3 linked regions of the Homo sapiens genome follow. The protein of the gene in region 2 purifies or fractionates together with the protein of the main gene of each other region. This does not show direct contact. Each region holds a gene or a part of one and is shown on either strand. Other genes may lie near its edges. The genes, in order: VIPAS39, PLOD3 and COL18A1.

Region 1 (3,648 bases), on a different chromosome or scaffold from region 2:
ATAGAAAGAGTGAAGTTCCTTTTTCATTTTCTACCTACTCCTATCTCACCCCCTTTCTCAAGGCAAACACTGTTAAAAGTTTAATGGGTAGCTTTCCAGACCTTCCCTCATGAATTTGCAAATAAACATCTGTACTTACAAAGATATGGAAGATGGAATTATTTTCTACATTGATAAGTTCATACTACAAATATTAAGTAAGTTACTTATCCCATTTAGTAGTATTTCAAGACTTTTCCCTGCATTCGTTTCTATAGATCTAAGAAGTTATTTCAAACCTGATTCATTTCCACTCTCTCAAATCCCTTGATTTTTCTGAAAAATTCATTTCTCATTATTTCTGTATCCCTCAGCACCCCCACTCACCCACCACATTATTCTGGTCTGATCGTAAAACATAGACTAACCTAGAATGTGTTGAGTGTGCCTGGCCTACCTGCCGCTACCCCATCTTCCTCTTTCAGAACTGGCTGGGCTATACCAAGAAGAGAGCACCCATTGGCTTCCATCGGGTTGTCGAAATTTTGCACAAGAACAATGCCCCTGTGCAGGTAATGGGTCCTGAAGAGAGTTGGGTACAGGATATTCTTGGAGACCTAACTTTAAGCCTCTTACTGGTCAGTGATGGGAGACCCGATCTGCTCTTGTTTTCCCTTAAAGGCAGCACAATGGCTGCAATAGGCCTCAAGACAGAAAAGGCCAGGGAGTGAAATTCTCTCCCTTTCTCCCCTTTAGAAACAATTCCAAACTGTCCTCTCTGAGTAGCATCTACTGTGTTAGCCCAAGTGGAATACTGATGTACTGTTCAAATGATAGAAAAGGAGAACTCGTGGAGAAAAGACATCAGGGAGAAATGAGCAGAGCACTGGATCACAGCTAGAGCACTCATTGCTGGCATGTGTATCTGGCTCGAGGATCAGGAGAAGTGTGCTCTTTCCTGCTTACTGAGGCAGCATGGAAGTACTGTGTAGCGTTACCTCATTCCCATTGCAGAACTAGTCCTGTGGTTGATGATGGAAACTGGAAACATTAGCTATTGAACTCTTTTGCCTTCTTCAGGACTTTCTTTTCTACCTTGTAGAGCTCTGTGCCTTATGGGTGTTTGAATCATTAATCGGAAGTACCTCTTCCCACAGATATTACAGGAGTATGTCAATCTGGTGGAAGATGTGGACACGAAGTTGAACTTAGCCACTAAGTTCAAGTGCCATGATGTCGTCATTGATGTGAGTCCCCAAGAAATGGGAGTCCTCCGTTAGATCCTCAGTGGCGAAGCAGGGTGGGGATTATAATATTCTCTGTCCAAGATCCTGAGGTGCTCCCACCAGGTTTGACTGAATGGACAGAATAATCTGGCAAGAGTTTGTTTGGAGACCAGCACTCCTGTATTATTTTCCCAGCCCTCTGACTGCTTTCTCTGTGTTTTTATAAACTTGTCGTACTTGGAGAATTCATAGAACTAAATCAAGCTATACAAGCTGTGTAGTCTTCTCTCCAACATGGAGTTCTGTGGGCACTGGACCCCACTGTTATCCCACTATAGCCTCTTAGCCTCTCCTTGAGCGTTGGGTCAAAGTGATAATGACAAAAAGAAATAAGCCCTCATGTGTACACAGTAGCACACACCAGTAGTTCCAGCTACTCAGGAGCCTAAGGAGAGAGGATTGCTTGAGCCCAGGAGTTTGAGACCATCCTGGGCAAAAAGAACCCTGTACAGAGGCTGATTGGAGGTTTGTATTGTTTGTTTTGATGCACAGACCTACCGGGACCTGAAGGATCGTCAACAGTTGCTAGCATACAGGAGTAAGGTAGATAAAGGATCAGCAGAGGAGGAGAAGATTGATGCTCTTCTCAGCAGCTCGGTGAGCAGCTACAGTTCACCCCTCCAGCAGGCTCAGGAGACAGACAGTTCACAAAATAGTACCAAATGTATGTTCCCAAGGTCTGGAAGGATTGCAGTTGGCTAAGCCACATGGATGTAAGGCTCTCCTCTGGCCACAATGTCAAAAGCACTGCTTTGAATAGCAGAAATTACTCCTGAGATGCGGTATGATAGGGGGGTAATCTGGGGACCTCAAGCTAAGACTTAACTGTAATGCTGTGATAATAGTTAAACCTAGCATGTAGGAGAAACTAAATATTGAAAGTATGAAAACATGTTACAGATTCAGAATATCCAAACTGTATGGTCTCGTGGGGATGGATGGGACCTACCAGTTGAAAATAAGAAGTGGGTGAAATAGATGTTAGCTACCTGGGGAGCACAGCTGGTTCGTCTCTCACAGCAGGAAATTACTGAGCTCTTTGTTAATATGAAAGTTAGTTCCCTGTTAGGTATTTTGGAACCTACCTTAGGGTCAAATGACCAAAATTAGGCTTGTAAAATACAAAATAGGTGTTTAATGCATCTTTGAATAAATGAACTCCCCCATATATTTTAAAAAATTTCTCAACATCCCCCACCTCCTGATCTGATTCTACTTTTTCTTTTCCTTACATTATCTAGCTGAGCCTTGTTTTGTTGCATTTTCTCTGCCTTGCTGTAGGGATAAGTGAAAACTGATCACACACTTTCATTGTTTCCTCTTTCCACAGCAAATTCGATGGAAGAATTAAGTGGCATTGACTACCTTGAAGCCTGCCTCATTTCCTCCTCTCCTGCCTGTGAAAGCAGAGAGAGCTCTTCTTTGGGAGAGCTGCGGCATCACATCGCTTGGGCCCATTACCCATGGGCAGTGCCAGCTACTCTTGACACAGATAACTTCAGACTGATCTTCTGTCCAAGGAACATCATCTGAGGATCGAGATCTAAAGCTTTGAGTCATGAGAATGATTCTCTCCACCTGGTGCTCATATGAAGGTGGGAGTGATTTCTAGATTGGGCCCCTACTGGGTAAGATCTCACTTGGTCTGAGAAAAGTGACTGCTCCAGAAAGGAAGAGGTATGGGAGTCATAGGGTGGCTACTGCATTCCACTCAGCTAATTATGATCCAGGACTTGGCGCTGGACATTGGCAGTTCTGCTCTGAATGAAGTCAGAACAGAACCAAAATGGCCTCAGGAAGGAATGCCAGTGTTTCCCAAGACCTCCTGGAGATGCACTCACACCAGACTGCACAGACCCCTCCACATTATGCCACACATGGCCTAGACGTTGTGTTTCCTCAGCCATTTTCCCTCTGCTGCCCCAGTTTACTCTGTCCAAAACCCTAAGGTTCTTCTCTCACTTGAACACAGACGACCTTGCTTGGGTGATGAGACATCCCCTTTATCTCTTCCTCTACTGCTGGCCAAGACCCGTCACTTTATAAGAAGCTCAGATGCAGCAGTGCTGGAGAGCTCTCTCTTTATGCAAAAATCTCATTTCACCAGGAGCTTTCAGAAGTTTCACCTGGGCTAAATTCAGCAGCATTTCTGTTAGGATATTTAGATGGAGGTTTTATTTTCACACTTGGATTCTTGCTCTGTACCAATATTTGCCTCCTTTTCTGTGACTGAACTGGGTTTTTCTGACATGCCTAGACTCCTAATAAAGGTATTTCTTCCTTGGTGCCTTCTCTCCCGCTCCTGGTGGTTTTGTGTAGAATGATGAAATAATTGCTCAGGATCTTAGGATCATTACAAGTCTTCCTCAGTGACTGCATTTAG
Region 2 (3,648 bases):
GCAGCGCACCTTGGTGTGGTAACCGGGAAACAGGCTCTCGGTCATGGGGCCCACATACGTCCGCAGCAGCTGCAGCCACTGGTCCTCGTACCCCACCTGCTTCATGTGGATGTCCACGGTGGGCACATTCTCGTAGCCTCCAGCCAGCCTTGAATCCTGGGGGCGGCGGGCACTGAGCCACCCGCCCCTCCAGCCATGGCGCTCCCCACCCCAGGGCAGTCCAGCCTCCTTCCTCCCGTCCTCCAGCCTTCACACCTGTGTTCCTCTGTGCAGAACAGTCTTCTTTGCTACTTCTCGGCCTGACTCACTGCTCCCGGCCCTTCAAGTCTCAGCTAAGATGTCACCTGTCCTGTGAAGCTCCCTACTCCTCCCAAGTCTGGGTCAAGGCTTCCCCGTGGCTTCTATTGCACCCAGGCTGCTCATCGCAGCCTTAGAAGCTGTGTGGTGGCTGCTGCTCACAGCAGGGCAGAGCTCGACCGGCATGAGGCATTCCTGCAGTGCAGTCTAGGACAGTGGCCCAGGAATGATTTCCTTTTCTCTTTTTTTAGAGACAGAGTCTTGCTCTGTCACCCAGGCTGGAGTACTGCGGCATGATCATAGCTCACTGCAGCCTCTAACTCTGGGGCTCAAGTGATCCTTCTGCCTCAGCCTCCTGAATAGCTGGGACATGCCACCATGCCCGGCTAATTTGTTGGTTTTTCTGAGATGGAGTTTCACTCTTGTTGCCCAGCCTGGAGTTCAATCTTGGCTCACTGCAACCTCTGCCTCCCGGGTTCAAGCAATTCTACCTCAGCTCCCGAGTAGCTGGGACTACAGGCGCCCGCCACCATGCCCGGCTAATTTTGTGTTTTTAGTAGAGATGGGGTTTCTCCATGTTGGTCAGGCTGGTCTCGAACTCCTGACCCCAGGTGATCCACCTGCCTCGGCCTCCCAAAGTGCTGGGATTACAGGCGTGAGCCACCGCACCTGGCCCAAACTCGGCTAATTTTTAAATTTTTTGTAGAGACAGGGTCTCGCTATGTTGCCCAGGCTGGCCTCAAACTCCCCCTGCTCGAGCAATCCTCCCGCCTCAGCCTCCCAAAGTGCTAGGATTACAGGCATGAGCCACTGTGCCCAGCAGTAAATATTTCTTGAATACATGAATGAATGCAGTTGTGACCCCAGGGTCTGCCTCCCCCCTGGGAACCCCTCTTTGCTCCCATTTTCCTGATTCCATTGTTTGTTTACCAGATCCTGCACCTCCTCCTCTGGGAAGGCCTCTGCCCTCCTCGCCCAGGCCCTTACCTCATGCCGGCCGCCTGACCACTGGCCGTAGTGCTCCATCTCTGCCACCAGCTCATCACACATTTGTTCTGACAGCAGTGGGAACCAGTACACGTCCGGGCATGGCTGAGGATGGGGCGAGGGAGAACAGGGCTAGCTGACGCCGCAGAACGGGGAAGGGGACAGGCAGCAGGCAGAATGGGAAGGGGCAGGGAGGAGCAGGGAAGGCTTTGTGAGAGCAGCCGGGGACCCGCCAGGTAGGGGCTGAGGGAGTGGCAAGGCTGAGGACCGGTTTCTGGCACAGGAGAGGTGGCAGAGGGTCCTGGAGCCCCTCGTGCTGGGACAGTGGTTTCCAAACTTCCGTAACAGTGCATACCTCTTTTTTTTTTTTTTGAGATAGGGTATTGCTCTGTCAACCAGGCTGGAGTGCAGTGGCACAATCATAGCTCACTACAGCCTCGACCTTCTGGGCTCAAGCGATCCTCCCGCCTCAGACTCCCAAGTAGCTGGAACTACAGGCACATGCCACCATGCCAAGCTAATTTTTTCTTTTCTTTTTTTTTTGAGACAGGGTCTCGCTGTGTCACCCAAGGTGGAGTGCAGTGGCGTGATCTTGGCTCACTGCAACCTCTGCCTCCCAGGTTCAAGCGATTCTCCCACCTCAGCCTCCCGAGTAGCTGGGACTACAGGTGCACGCCATCACACCTGACTAATTTTTGTGTTTTTTTTTTTTTTTTTTTTGGTAGAGACAGGATTTGCCATGTTGGCCAGGCTGGTCTCGAACTCCTGACCTCAGGTGATCTGCCTGCCTCGGCCTCTCAATGTACTGGGATTACAAGCATGAGCACCACTCCTGGCCTCATTTCTTATTTAATTTTTTTGTTGTTGTTGTAGAGACAGATTCTCGCTATGTTGCCCAGGCTGGTCTTGGACTTCTGGCCTCAACCGATCCACCCACCTTGGCCTCCCAAAGTGCTGGGATTACAGGCATGAGCCACTGAGCCCAGCCCCATTCTTCTTTTAAGATGTGATTTCAAGCATAACACCAGTATACCCAATATACAGGAGAAGAGGCTGTCTGATCAATGCTGGCTTTGGGGGCAAGAGTCCTTTCTGTTCGGCCTCTGCCTTCATCTTGTCTGAACAGAAAACCCTCAGATCTCTGGGGAACTCAGTGTGAAAACTTTGAATCCAGGCGGGGGCCCCCAAGAGGCGATGGCCATGAGGGCAGGGGGTGGGTGGGGAGGCTGCGTGGGCTCACCTGCTCCACGATTCCTTCCCCTTCCAGGGCCCGGCTGTAGTTCTCGTGGATGTACTGCTCCTTCCAGTCCTGTGAGAGGGTGGGGGGCACATCAGATCTGTGCCCCCCTCGCTCCCAGCCCCCAGGGGACCGCCCCCTCCCACTCAGTGTCCTGCGCTGGCAGCAGCCATCACGTTTGGTGTCTTCCTTAGCACAAGGCGGGGAACCTGTGTGCTCTGGGCGTGGGGTCCCCACTCACGACGGGGTTGTCGAAGATCTGCCAGAGGTCGGGGTGCAGGTGCTCCGTGTCGTATCTGGAAGTGGCCAGGAGCCGGCCAAATTCATGCTGATTGCTCAGATGGAGGAAGATGCCCTGTAGTGGGGTGGGGGTGTCCGTGATGCAGGCGATGCCTGGAGTCTGGGGGACTGCCCCCAGGCCAGACCGTGCACCCGCGCTCACCTTGTCTCGAAAGCTCTTACAGAAGGCCATGTCCGGGTCTGTGTCACTGCCCGAGAACACATCCCTCTGGGGCAGCTCCATCCGCAGGGTATCACCCCGGATCACATAGGCCTGGGAGATGTATGGTACATTCCACACACCCCTGGAGGCACCGACACCGCGGTCAGCTGGGAGGACAGCCCCCCAAATTCTGCCCAGCTCATCCCGGGAAGTCCTTCTTCCCTCAGGGTATCCCAGTCCCTGAACATAAGGCCCCTGCATGTCCCTTGTCAAGCACTGCTGGTCCCAACCACCCCACCTCCCAAAATGCGGTCAGTTCCTACCCCAAGCTGTGGCACTTCTTTTTTGTTTCTTGTTTTTGGTTTTTGAGACGGAGTCTTGCTCTGTCACCCAGGCTGGAATGCAGTGGTGTGATCTTGGCTCACTGCAACCTCCACCTCCCAGGTTCAAGCAATTCTCCCACCTTAGCCTCCCAAATAGCTGGGATTAGAGGTGCCAGCCACCATGCCCGGCTGATTTTTGTATTTTTGGTAGAGATGGGGTTTCACCATGTTGGCCAGGCTGGTCTCGAACTCCTGACCTCGAGTAATCCACCTGCCTCTGCCTTCCAAAGTGCTGGGATTACAGGCGTCAGCCACCGCGGCCGGCCCTTGTTTTTTATTTTCTTGAGAAAGGGTCTCCCTCT
Region 3 (3,648 bases), on a different chromosome or scaffold from region 2:
CCTGGGACCCCCAGCAGCTCTGCAGGGGCTGGGCCCTCTTCTGCTGCCGAGAGCCGAGGGGCTAGATGGAGCCAAGCCCACTTTGGGGGGGCACTCACCACCGGCTGGAAGTCGCGGTGGCTGTGGGCGGGTGGGCTTGTGGGTCGCGCCGGCCGCAGGTGCACGTAGGAGCTGTGGTGCGGGGCTCCGGGGTAGGGCTGGGGCTCGGGCAGGCGAGGGGGGCTGGCCAGGATGTCATCTGCCCGCCAGGGCCGCGCGGTGGGGTGGGGGTGCTCCCGCCGCGGGTAGGGGTTGCTGTCGTGCAGCTGCACCACGGGGGGCTGCAAGGCGGCCACTTCATTGTCCTGCAGGTGGGAGACGTGGGGCCTGTCGGCGGGGGGACCCTCCGGGTGCCCCTCCTCCATCTGTGTCCTCCTCTGGGCTGGGTGAGAGGGGCTGGGCTCTGAACTGGCAAGCAGGGAGCTGCGCCCCCGACTCTGGGGCTGCCCTGGGGGTGTAGGCAGCAGCAAGGGTGGGGAGTCCTGCCTGCCGTGGCGCCGGATCGCGGGTCACCTCTGCTCAGGCCCCACAGACCCAGCCGTGCTCAGAAGCCGCAGCAATCACTCACCACGTGCCCTGACCTGCCCTCTCCTTTGCCGCGGCTCCAATTCAGGGCCCCTGACCTCAACACGGCGACCTTCGACCTTCTAATCTCCCAGGGCCTTGCTCTGTCTCCCTCAGAGGTGACCTCCACCCTAGAAATCCCAGCCCCCAGGCCTGCACCCCAGTCCGGATGCCCCTATTGATTCTGCACCTTTCCCCACGGCCCTCAGCCCCTCCTGACCCAGCTGCCATTGCCATCCACCTGCACCCTGTCCACATGGCTGTCCCCACTGTCTGCTCCACAGGGCCAGGCTGTGTGTTACCCAGGGCAATATCCATGGCCACCCGGCACACAGGAGGGGCCATGACTATTGACTGGCTGAATGAAAGAATGAATCAGCAAATGAGTGAGAGCAGACTGGGCTGAACCCTGTGAGGAGACAGGCCGCTGTGGAGCCCCTGACACTGCTCCACATCAGGCCTCACTCCTGAGCCAATTAAGGAATCATGACCTCTACTCAAGGAGGGGCCGACAGCAGCTGGACGCAACACTTAGGAAAACGAAAATATTTCTACCCATCCATCCACCCACCCATCCACTAACCCACTTACCCACCATCCATCCACCCACCCATCCACTCACCCACCTGTCCATCCACCCATCCACTCACCCACTTACCCACCATCCATCCACCCATTCATCCACTCATCTACCTATCCACCATCCATCTGCCCACCATCCATCCACCCATCCACTCACCCACTTGTCCACCATCCATCTGCCCATCTATCCACTCACCCACCTGTCCAGCAACCACCCATCCACCTCCCCATCTACCTACCCATCCACTCACCCACCTGTCCACCATCCACTCACCCACTTACCCACTATCCACCCACCCATTCATACACTCACCCACCTGTCCACCATCCATCCATCTCCCCAGCTACCTACCTATCCACTCACCCACCTTTCCATCCACCCACCCACCCGTCCACTCACCCGCCTGACCACCATCCATCCACTCACCCACCTGTCCACCATCTACTCATCCATCCACCTCCCCATCTACCTACGTATCCACTCACCCACCTCTCCATCCACCCATCCATCCATCCACCTCCCCATTGATTCACCCACCCAGTCACCCACCACTCTTAGAGATATCCATTCTTGTGTCTGGCACTTTGGGTGAGGGAAGGCAAAGACACAAGATGTGGATTTTGGCCCCAAGGATTTTGACCTTGAGGAGGGCAATGAGCGGCAGACACAACTGGGAAAGTTGAGGGATGAGAGGGGCTCCCTCGTGAGGCCAGCAGCTGAGACGGAGGTACTGGGGGGCCAGCGCTGAGACAGAGGTAGTGGGGTGTCCTGCACCAGTTTCTGCAGCAGGGGCTGATGGTGAGCCACATGTTCAGCTCCAGGACTCCAAAGGACCACGTGTTGTTCCTCAAACAGGGGACAGCACATACCCCCTCATGTCCTGACCACCCACCAGTCTCAACAGAAAAAAGGCTCCTTACCGTCCCTCGTGGGAGTGGTGTCCGGGCCTCCAGCTGGAAGAAAGCAGCAGGGTCACCCAGGACCTGCGGCTGGGCCTGAGCCAGGGTGCCCTCCCTGCCCAGCACCCGACTCTCCCGCCCCAGCACCTGGCCCTCCCAGCCCACAGGAGGGTGCCCTCCCTGCCCAGCACCTGCCCCTCCAAGCCTGTGCCAGGGTACGCTCCCTGCCCAGCACCCGGCCCTCCCAGTCCACAGCAGGGTGCCCTCCCTGCCCAGCACCCGGCCCTGCCAGCCCACAGGAGGGTGCCCTCCCTGCCCAGCACCCGGCCCTCCCAGTCCACAGCAGGTTGCCCTCCCTGCCCAGCACCCACCTCTCCCTCCCCAACACCCGGCCCTCCCAGCCCACAGGAGGGTGCCCTCCCTGCCCAGCACCCGCCTCTCCCTCCCCAACACCCGGCCCTCCCAGCCCACAGGAGGGTGCCCTCCCTGCCCAGCACCCAGCCCTCCCAGTCCACGGCAGGTTGCCCTCCCTGCCCAGCACCCAGCCCTCCCAGCACGCGTTTGCTAGGATGCCATCCCCTGCCTCCTCCTGTCAGGACCAAAGCCCCTGAAAGTTAGGATGGGGCTGCATCCGGGTGCCTACAAGCACACCTGGCACACAGTGGGCACCAGCTCAGCATCTGCTATGAGACTGGCAGCCTCTCCCTGGCCAGATGAAGGGACTGGAGTGGGATTCACTGTCTGGGGTGCTGCAGGGGCTGGCCAGGCCTAGGAGGGGGCCGGTGGCGAGAGGGAGGGAGTGCTAGAGGGAAGGTGGGAGGGCTCCAGAGGGAAGGTGGGAGGGTTCCAGAGGGAAGGTGGGAGGGCTCTAGAAGGAAGGTGGGTGTGTTGGAAGGTGGGAGGGCTCCAGGAGTCAGGGCTGTGTCAGTGTGCAGTGTTCTGCCATGGAGGCTCCCACGGATGTCACAGGCCGTTTCGGCGGCATGGGGCTTCTACCCGTCCTCACCTTTGCCACACGAAGGTAAACCTTCCCGGGGCCCTGCAAGCATGGCCGCACCCACCTGGATCAGAGCGGCCACTCCTGCCACCCAGACCATTTTGGGAAAGCAGGAAAGGGGCTGGCCTGTCCTGGAAGGGGCAATCCCAGGTGTGTCTGAGGAGCCAGGCTGGTGAGCAAGGCCCGTGCTAAGCAGAGAGGATGCATTTCATCCCACCTTGGTGTTTATAACGCGGGGTGCAGAGCCACGGGACAGCCTGCCCCCCAGCCGGGGCCGTGCTGTGGACGTCACGTGGCCCTGGAGGGCCTGAGCCCCCCTGCCGCCTCGTCCCGTCAGGCGCCTTGTCTTATTATCGGGTGTGTGAGGTGACATTTATCTTTGTAAACGTTCACTGTGACATGACCCACCAGGAGCCCCTCACACGCCATGTGTTCATCCACTTTCAGAAGCTTGAGCTCACTTTTCTTTAAACCCAAAACTGCTCACAAAAGTATTTTACTAAACTTTACCAAAAGTTTGAAAGTTTAAGAAGCGCTGGCTGCCACCTGCTCCCATCCCTGTCCGG

Evidence for each region.
Region 1: the proteins of PLOD3 (region 2) and VIPAS39 purify together in Homo sapiens (co-immunoprecipitation; 2 studies listed by BioGRID and IntAct, with this or other methods). This does not show direct contact.
Region 3: the proteins of PLOD3 (region 2) and COL18A1 purify together in Homo sapiens (co-immunoprecipitation; 2 studies listed by BioGRID and IntAct, with this or other methods). This does not show direct contact.

The regions. Positions count from the first base shown.
Region 1 is NC_000014.9:77,426,584-77,430,231, reverse strand, and holds the end of VIPAS39 (spermatogenesis-defective protein 39 homolog), read left to right. Parts: intron 1-62; coding exon of another isoform or gene 63-113; exon of another isoform or gene 114-142; intron 143-464; coding exon 465-551; intron 552-1,136; coding exon 1,137-1,226; intron 1,227-1,757; coding exon 1,758-1,862; intron 1,863-2,595; coding exon 2,596-2,616; 3' UTR 2,617-3,557; downstream 3,558-3,648.
Region 2 is NC_000007.14:101,207,569-101,211,216, forward strand, and holds part of PLOD3 (multifunctional procollagen lysine hydroxylase and glycosyltransferase LH3 precursor), read right to left. Parts: intron 3,106-3,648; coding exon 2,964-3,105; intron 2,877-2,963; coding exon 2,763-2,876; intron 2,594-2,762; coding exon 2,525-2,593; intron 1,390-2,524; coding exon 1,285-1,389; intron 157-1,284; coding exon 10-156; intron 1-9. UniProt on the Homo sapiens protein: Multifunctional enzyme that catalyzes a series of essential post-translational modifications on Lys residues in procollagen. Plays a redundant role in catalyzing the formation of hydroxylysine residues in -Xaa-Lys-Gly- sequences in collagens.
Region 3 is NC_000021.9:45,506,052-45,509,699, reverse strand, and holds part of COL18A1 (collagen alpha-1(XVIII) chain isoform 4 preproprotein), read right to left. Parts: intron 2,140-3,648; coding exon 2,107-2,139; intron 345-2,106; coding exon 99-344; intron 1-98. UniProt on the Homo sapiens protein: Probably plays a major role in determining the retinal structure as well as in the closure of the neural tube.